2 separate regions of the Homo sapiens genome follow, and region 1 is reported to be linked to region 2. Evidence: microRNA targets listed by miRTarBase, many of them from high-throughput screens and not tested one by one. Region 2 holds a microRNA gene; the other region holds the end of a gene's coding sequence.

The links. Region 2 holds the annotated microRNA hsa-miR-3181 (AUCGGGCCCUCGGCGCCGG, at 1,759-1,777, shown strand). A microRNA usually pairs through its seed, bases 2 to 8, with sites in the 3' UTR of a target mRNA and lowers its output. Matches are read on the target gene's strand: a 7mer-m8 pairs with bases 2 to 8, a 7mer-A1 pairs with bases 2 to 7 and ends in A, and an 8mer does both.
Region 1: the mRNA of PHACTR3 is a reported target of hsa-miR-3181. The part of its 3' UTR that is shown has no 7-base or 8-base seed match.

What each region holds. Positions count from the first base shown.
Region 1 is chr20:59,846,589-59,850,647 of GRCh38, reverse strand. PHACTR3 (phosphatase and actin regulator 3) reads right to left here. Exons shown (of 13, transcript NM_080672.5): 13 at 2,937-3,533. The coding sequence ends at 3,518. Among named protein-coding and RNA genes, the nearest start is that of SYCP2, 85 kb to the left of the region's middle.
Region 2 is chr16:50,740,555-50,744,620 of GRCh38, forward strand. MIR3181 (microRNA 3181) reads left to right here and starts at 1,751; the gene lies at 1,751-1,823. CYLD (CYLD lysine 63 deubiquitinase) reads left to right here and starts at 1,532. Exons shown (of 19, transcript NM_001378743.1): 1 at 1,532-1,570; 2 at 2,208-2,287. It overlaps CYLD-AS1 (CYLD antisense RNA 1), which reads right to left and starts at 2,193. Exons shown (of 7, transcript NR_184279.1): 1 at 2,117-2,193; 2 at 774-850; 3 at 126-240. RefSeq lists a silencer at 1,347-1,946 and an enhancer at 2,187-2,286.

The DNA.
Region 1 (4,059 bases), not on the chromosome of region 2:
AACTGCTAACCAGTACTTTCTGTTGTTCATTCGAACAAACATTTTTTGTTTGAACTAGTAGTATGTTCCTAGTATCATCACTGTAAATAAATTTGCAGCTAAATAAGCAAATGGGATTTATAGAAATCTACTTTTTGAAAATATTTTTCATATATTCAGTTTCATATGTTCACTTGCTTACGAATATCTTCTGAGATGTTTTCATATGAAAAATGGAGAAAAAGGTCTCTGGAAAAAAACTAGACAAATGGGTATCGGAAGCATATAGTAATAGCAGTTTTAATAGTACGATTAGGATTTTGCATTTCTGAGCTTGAATTTGTTGTTGAAGGACTGTAGGTACATAGCTAAAAACTTTGACTTTACTTCCAATGTATAATAAATGTAGGCCTGTAATTACCATATCTTTCCACAAGGTGGATGTCTTGATGTTAGGTTCTTCCTCCCCGCTCCCACCACCATTTCAATTGTCAAAAAATTACTTAGGTGATATGATTTCAAAGTCTCTTTATTTTATTTTTATATTTTTTGAGACAGGGTCTTGCTCTGTTGCCCTGGTTGGAGTGCAGTGGTGCAATCACGGCTCACTATGGCCTTAACCTCCCGGGCTCAAGTGATCCTGCCACCTCAGCCTCCCTAGTAGCTGGGACTACAGGCGCATACCACCATGCCCAGCTAATTTTTTGTTTTGTAGAGATGGAGTTTCGCTATGTTGCCCAGGCTGGTGTCGAACTCCTGGACTAAAGCAATCCACTCATCTCGGCCTCCCAAAGTGCTGGGATTACAGGCATGAGCCACCATGCCCAGCCCCCTTTAAATTTTTTTAGAAATACTTTTTACAAAGTCATATAATGTAGTATTTCCTCTATTACATTAGCTTAAAAGTTACTAGATGTTTCTAGAAGATATTTAATTTCCTCTCACTAAATTACTAACATGCTTGTAAAAATGTTTTGAACTCCTTAAAAACAGAACTTATGATTTAAATATTCATGGTTGCTTTAATAATTTTTTCTGAAAATAGGGGCAAATGATTTGTAAATTTATTGCATAAAAAGCTCATTATTGAATACTAGTAATGAAGAATTCTGATAATTCATATATACTGTTATTCAGTAGGACAAATAGTTTTTTCTAAATCTGTTGGCTGTTAAGTATATAAACTTTCTCTTCAAATTATAAATATATGCAAATGCGTGTACATATACATGTATGTCATCAGTGTAATATGACTTGTGAATTGCTTTTTAATTTTATTCCTCTAACTTGATAGTTGTGATGTGCAGGTGGAGAGTAAATATACTTGATTCAATTTTAGTTTATCTCTTAACCCTTATAATACCTGATAAGAACATGAAATATGTAAGTATAGAGTAATAGTTTGTGCATAATAAAAACACAATGGTAGAAGTTAGATACTATTGCCACAAATTTTGATTTAAGTGAATATGTCTGCTGGTTTTAGGATATCTTAGAACCTTTGAGTCTGAACCAGTCCAAACCCTCCTTTGGTTATCCTGCACTTTACCTTTTTAGTTTTATTATCCACTAGTTATGGGACTTGGGGAAAAAACTAAATATATGTCCCATCTAACCAGGTCATTTCTAACTATAGGATCTGCCTGGTTCTTTTGTTAAGCAGTACTGATCTTTTGTACTTTGGGGGCCAAGGTGGTTTCTAAACAGTAGCACCTTTTCCTTTTCTGTTTCATAGTAAATATATTAATATTTCTATGTGAGGGAAATTGAAATCTTAGTTTTACATAATTTGGGCTCCCATTAATATTTTAAATTGAATATTAAATACAGAGAGCTTCTAATATGTTGCTTAAGATAGAAAAGAGGTAAAGTTTTGGCTACAAATAATGGGTTATGAATAACAGAAAATATATAATGTATATATATATATATATATCAAATCCTTTAAATTTAACTGACTTCTAATTAGAAAGGATTTAGATACATTTCACAAACAAATTGAGGCTCAGAGAAGTCAACTGATTCACAGAAGGTTACAGAGCAGCTAAGAGGTAGAGCTGGAATTTTTCTACCATAACAATTTCTTATTAAAAAAAACTATAATTCAATGAATAGTGTGTTTTGCTAGTCTCTAGGACTGATCATAAGTCACTTTGGACAAAGTGCTAACATAAAGACTTGGCAGTTTCTGTGGGCGTCTGACCCAGTAGCAGTCTTAAGTAGAAAAGGAAAAATAGTGGAAAGCAATGAGGTAGCATATGTGGCAAGAAGTCATAGAGGACACTCAGTTGCTCCAGGTGCTACCTGGCAACCATATCAGTAGCTAACATTTATTGGATTCCCAGAACGTCCTCAGCAATGTGCCAGCACTTTAGCTACTTTGTCTTATTTAGATACTACAGCAATGTTGTGTGAGAGAGATATGACCATACTATAGAAAAAACAAGTAACTTGTTGAATAGCACAGAGCTTGGATTTGTGCACAAGTTCTGCAAGCTCTGAAAGTCATGCTCCAAGTTACTGTGCTTCCTGCCTCACCAGTATACCAGGAGGGAAGGAGGAGGGAAGGCTCATCTCTGTAAGGACACTTATTTGAAAGCCAATTAAAAATATTTTTCAGGGAACATGTATTGTTAGTTTCCCCCTTTGTGCCAAGATTTTCACCTTTGTGCTGGGGTAAATTTCCTTTCTTTAACAGTGTTTGCAGAGGTGAGCTTAAAAATACTCTAAAGAGGCATACTTTTCATTTTGATAGAATTTTTCAACAAATTATTGCTTATTTCTTGGTTAAAGGCACTCAATTTGATTTTCTAAGGCACAAACCAAACACATAAAAAGTTGGAATTCTCATTCATGTGTTTGGATTCTGATCGTTCACAAGTAAAAATTGACTTGTTTCACAGATCCCTGTTCTAAAGTACCACTCATCCCAACCACAAGAAAATGTAAAGCCTGGGTTAATTTCCTGCAATAAGTAGTCATTTAATTAAAGAACAAAATTAACAGGAATCAAAATGTTGCAGCTGTATTTTTTGTTAGACATTATATAAAAAAGGAAAAGTATAATACAGTAAATCATCTTGTATAACATGAACTTAAAGAGTTTTCAAATTAATTATGATCAGGATAAAAATGTCTTTTGAACATAATACTGAATGACACTGTCACATGTCCCTCATGTCAGAGGCCTGGGAGTGGTGAGCCTGCACATGCACGTTGCCCGTCCTCCATTACACTGCAGAACTGTAAAACAAGGTTGAAAGGCAAACAACAGTTTTCTTCTGATAGAGTTATGTTGGGTCTTAACTGACCCCAACAGTTCACACTCCTCAGACACCAAAGAAGGAAGGAAGTGTGTCCTCTGGTTACTCCTCTTGCAGGTAAGTGTGGTCAAGATTGCACCTGTGTGTGTGATCCTACTCTTCTCACAAACACAGCAGGTAGGGTAGTCTTGAGCTGAACTTCAGGAAAGTTCCCTGATGAATGTTCAGTGTTGGTATCAAAAAATTAAACACAAATTCTTCTCAGAAGAAAATCTCTATGGCCTGTGGAATCTAGAGATTATAAAAAAGACAAAGAATTTAAGGTTATTCATTTCTAGCAGTTAAAATAGCCAAAAACCTTATACAAATAAATTTGCTGCTATTAAAAAGATTCTCAGAAGTCCCATATGTAAAACATGAGGATGGAGCTACTCTGGTTAAAATAGGGTAGAGTCTCAGAGGGCTCCCCACTCTCAGGCCCCTGTTATATGCTGAATTCTTAGGACTATCTAGAACTTAGTTTTAAACCTGTGAGTTAAAAGCCCTTGAAGTACACAGAAAGGCCAGGGCTTTGCTAAATCAGTAGAAATGATGAATTTGTTAATAAATTATTGAAAATTATAGTAGAGTTATGACTTTTTGTAGAGTAATATGTTCATAGTAATTTTAAAACTCTTAAAATCTCATAACCAAAAATACCGTTCTGACTCTTGAATTGTTGAAATAATTTTAGGGTCTTTATACCACATTTTAAGTATTAGAGTCATTATTTTAGAAAGCTATCAACTTAGGACAATAAACATCTTTACTAAACATT
Region 2 (4,066 bases):
AAAGGACCCCAAATCTCTCTCCTTCACATTCTTTTCTCCTTCCTCCTTATCGTATGGGTTAGGCAAAAACAAATTTCAGCTGAAATTTTCTTCCAGACAGTTGGACTGTGACCTCTGAGTCCTACCAGCTTTGTTGGAGAATCCAGATGTAGATGAGAACGGTGTTGCCTAAGGCCACACTTCAAGCCAGGCCCGTTGATTTCCAACTTATGGCTTCCTACAGCAGTGTGGTCATGAAGCCTGGAAAACAGGAAGATAGGAGTGACAAAAGAGGGACAGGAGTAGAATGAGGCTTAGGTTTTCAAAAGATGCTCATTTCATTTTGGATGACTATGGCAAGGAAGAGTGGTGGCCTGTCTACTGCTACTGTTAGTCATCACTCATGTGACTGTTTTTATGTATTCATTGGTTTAAATTCCCTGGATCTCCAGAAACATGTCACTTTCCACTGGGGGAAATTTGTGTCATGATTAAAAACACACACACACACACACACACACACACACACACCCCTCCTCCTTTCTCAGTGTTAATCACCTTCTCCTATAATTAGCACTTAAAATGTCAAAGGAGAAGAAATTAATTAACAGGAGTATCCAGTGCAGCAAGGCTCTAGGACTGATTATAAAAAGCACTTCCTTAAATATTTTGAGTGCTTTTGGGAATCAGAAGCCTCCCTTCTAATTGAAAGATCCTTAACTACACCCTAAGTCCTGGCTGGTGGCCAGGGGTGCGGGGCTGAGTGAGGCGGCGTGTGGAAATCCCTTCTTCACCATCCTTGGGAAAATTCCCTCCAAACTGGGATAGGTGGCAACAGAGGTTCGGAAACAGCAAGCGTCCCAGGCTGAATCTGCGGAGGAGGAAGAGATGAACCTTTCCTGAGCTGGTACTGCGTGCCAGGAACTTTAGCTCGGTATTTTGCCACAATCCTGTAAGACAACCGATACTATGATCTCCATTTTACAGATGAGGACATTGAGGCTCAGCGTGGTTGTGACTTCCTCAGGTCACGCAGCCACTGAATGAAAGCGCCAAAGATTCAAACTGAGGTCTGATTCTAAAGCTTTGCTCTCTCACGGCATCCTGGAATCCTATTTCAACCTTCATCTGGACTCTTAACCCAGCCCAAACCTAAGCGTCTACAGTTTTGACAGCTGAGGCGGGAGCACGGGAGGCGGAGCTGGTGGCAGCGCAGCGCCCCGCCCCGGCTCCAGCATCAGCCAATGGTGACGCGGCACCCACAGCCTTTCGCCCAATCAGCTTGAGCTTCCCGCCTCCATCCGCCGCTCTTCTCTGCCCCGCCCCTTCGCTTTCCCTTTGGTTCCACCGAGCTTGACAGAGCGGAAAGTCCCTTCGGCCGGCGCCGGGCTGGCAGCCATTGGAGGAAGGTCTGTCACAGGGAGGCCCAATCACGGCCCGCTCAGGAGCGCAGCTCGGCCTACGATTGGCTAGCGCGGCGGCTGCCCCCTCCGCCCCCGCTCCCTCCCTCTTCCCTGTGCGGTTCGGAGGCGGGGCAGGTGGGGGCGGGCCCAGGTAGCAGGTTTGGCTGCGCGGGGGCCGCGCGTCGGAGGTAAATACTAGGGCGGTGGGTGTGGGGAGCCGGGGCCGGCCCGGGACGCGGGCTGGGGAGCCGGGGCGAGGGGCGACGCCCCGCCGCCCGAGGTTAGTGAATGAGCGGGCGGCTGGCGGCCGGCGGGCGGCCGGATCCCCTCGGCGCAGCCGCCTGGCCTCAGGGCGTCCGGAGCCGCCGCGGCGACCATCGGGCCCTCGGCGCCGGCCCGTTAGTTGCCCGGGCCCGAGCCGGCCGGGCCCGCGGGTTGCCGAGCCCGCTGACGTCAGCCCGGGTTTCCCCCCCCCACCGGGGCTTCCCCATCCCCCGAGGCTTCCCGGGAGGGCTGCGAGTCCGGGGAGCGTGCGGGGTCGCCACCATCGGGACCCCCAGAGGAGAGAGGACTTGGGGCGGGAGCCGCGCGGGACGCTGTCCCCCTCCCGCCCCCCACCCCATTTACAGATTGGGAGACTGAGGCACAGGCCGCTGGCGGGCCCCGACGGCCACGGTTGGCCTCAGGAGCCCGGGGCTGTGATTCCTACCGACCGCGCCGCGGGGCGTACGTACCGATCGATTTTGCGGGTGTTGGTGGCTCCCGTCCAGGAATGGCAGTCGGGGTTCTGGCCTTGTTAATGGCGTGTTCTGCTTTTTCTTTCAGTTTCCCCCTTTCTAGGGTGAGGATGGTTCTACACAGCCACCCGGAGTTCCTTAGTTGAAAGGTGCGCCCTGCTGTGACAGGTATTCTTTCTTTATGTTTTTCTTTCATGTTAACAATCGAGGGGGGTGGGGGGCGAATGGGGGGCGGGGGCGAAGTCATGAAATCTTCAGGAGATGGTGTTGAGTTTGGTACTCAGCTGGGTCAGCTGCCGGTTATTCATGTACTTGGCATCGTTTCTCTTCCACCCCTTGGCATTTGAATGTTTTAGGATAGTTGTCATCTTCCAGCCACCAAGCCTGTGGCCTTGCAGTCTCCCAGCCCCCATCATCCCTGCCACCTTCTTCTCCTCAATTTTTCCTGGAAAGTTTTATCCTTAGCTCAGCTAAGGAGCATGCCTACCTTGCTTTTGAATTCGGGCTAATTAGGGATCTTAATAAGATTGTTCATTTTGCAATCATTGGCTCTCAGAGAAGCACCCAGGCCTTGAGAGGGTGTTCGTTTGATTGTTGGCTTTCTACACACCCCCTCACGCCCCAAGTAGACTGAATGGCCTTAAGAATTTAGCCTCCCATTCCCCACTGAGCAGTAGGTGGATTTGAACTAGAACAGTATTAGGAGAAAATGATTTGCTGGAAATTCTTATTGAAGTAACACCCAGAACATTCTCTAATATTCTGCTGCAAAATTGTATAGTATTCTTGCAAATAAACCTTCCTCTGGGTGGTAACTTTTGTGAGAAGCAGATAAGGCTTGTTATATAAAGCACAACTAACATTAAGCAGCAATGATTTTTATAGTCTGGCACACCTAAACTGTGGTTTTGTTTGATTTAAGGAAGTCTCCAACACAGGGAGAGAGAAAGGAATAGTTATGTTGTTTATCAAACTATTAGTATTTTGTTCCTGATTTTCACACTATGATTTAAATTAGTTTTTTTTTCATTGGTTGTACAGAATTTATAAGCATCATACATGCTAGTTGAGGCTGTAGGAAGCTAGTATCAAATAAACCTCAAAACAACTTGGTTTCGTAATTGTGAAATTTTCCGTATTTGTTTCTTCTTATATGTATAACAATGAAGTGGTTTAGCATGATTTCATTTTATCTAGAGAATTACTGAAGTTTTAGGCAAAATTCATTAAATACTCCCAATTCCTGAGTCTTTTTCTCTTCTCTTTCTCTTGGTTTAATCCCTTAAACAGGAGGAGGAAATGCAATTTTGTTTTCACTGTTACCACTTGAGTCTTTCATTCATTTCTCTGTATTCAGTGCCTAGCATATGCCAGGCTCTCGTGTGGGCACTGGATAATATAAAAATGAAGGACTTGGGGAATTCACAGTTTGGCAGTGGAGTGGCTAGGTTTAACACTAGAGAGGCAGCAGTATTCCTTGTTCCAGTGGGAATATGCAGATGTGAGAGGCTCTTCTTTTCTTTTTTTTTTTTAACCTTATAAATCCCACTTGTATTAGGGACTGTGTACTTGTGACACAAATTAGTCATTGAGGAAAATTAAAACGGACTCAGTCTTTTTTCTGGCCACGGAATCTCTGTATCTCTATTCTTTAGCTGTTTAGAAATATAACAACTTTGTCTTTTAGTGAGAGATGTTCTCTTTTAAAAGGATGATCATTCTAGCTATCCAGAAGCTTTTGGAAAAAGGCCCACATGTCTTCTTTCTTTGGTGTTCAAGCTGACCTTCCTACCTCTTTGCCATTTATAATTAGGGGCAGAATTAAGTATTGTAAGTTTTATTCTAATTTAAATAGCTTCCTGTGGTTTTTAGAACAAGCAGGATATCTTTGGAGATGCAAAAAGCTCTTGAATTGGATCTGTCTTTGTGAGATCCTTATGAACAATA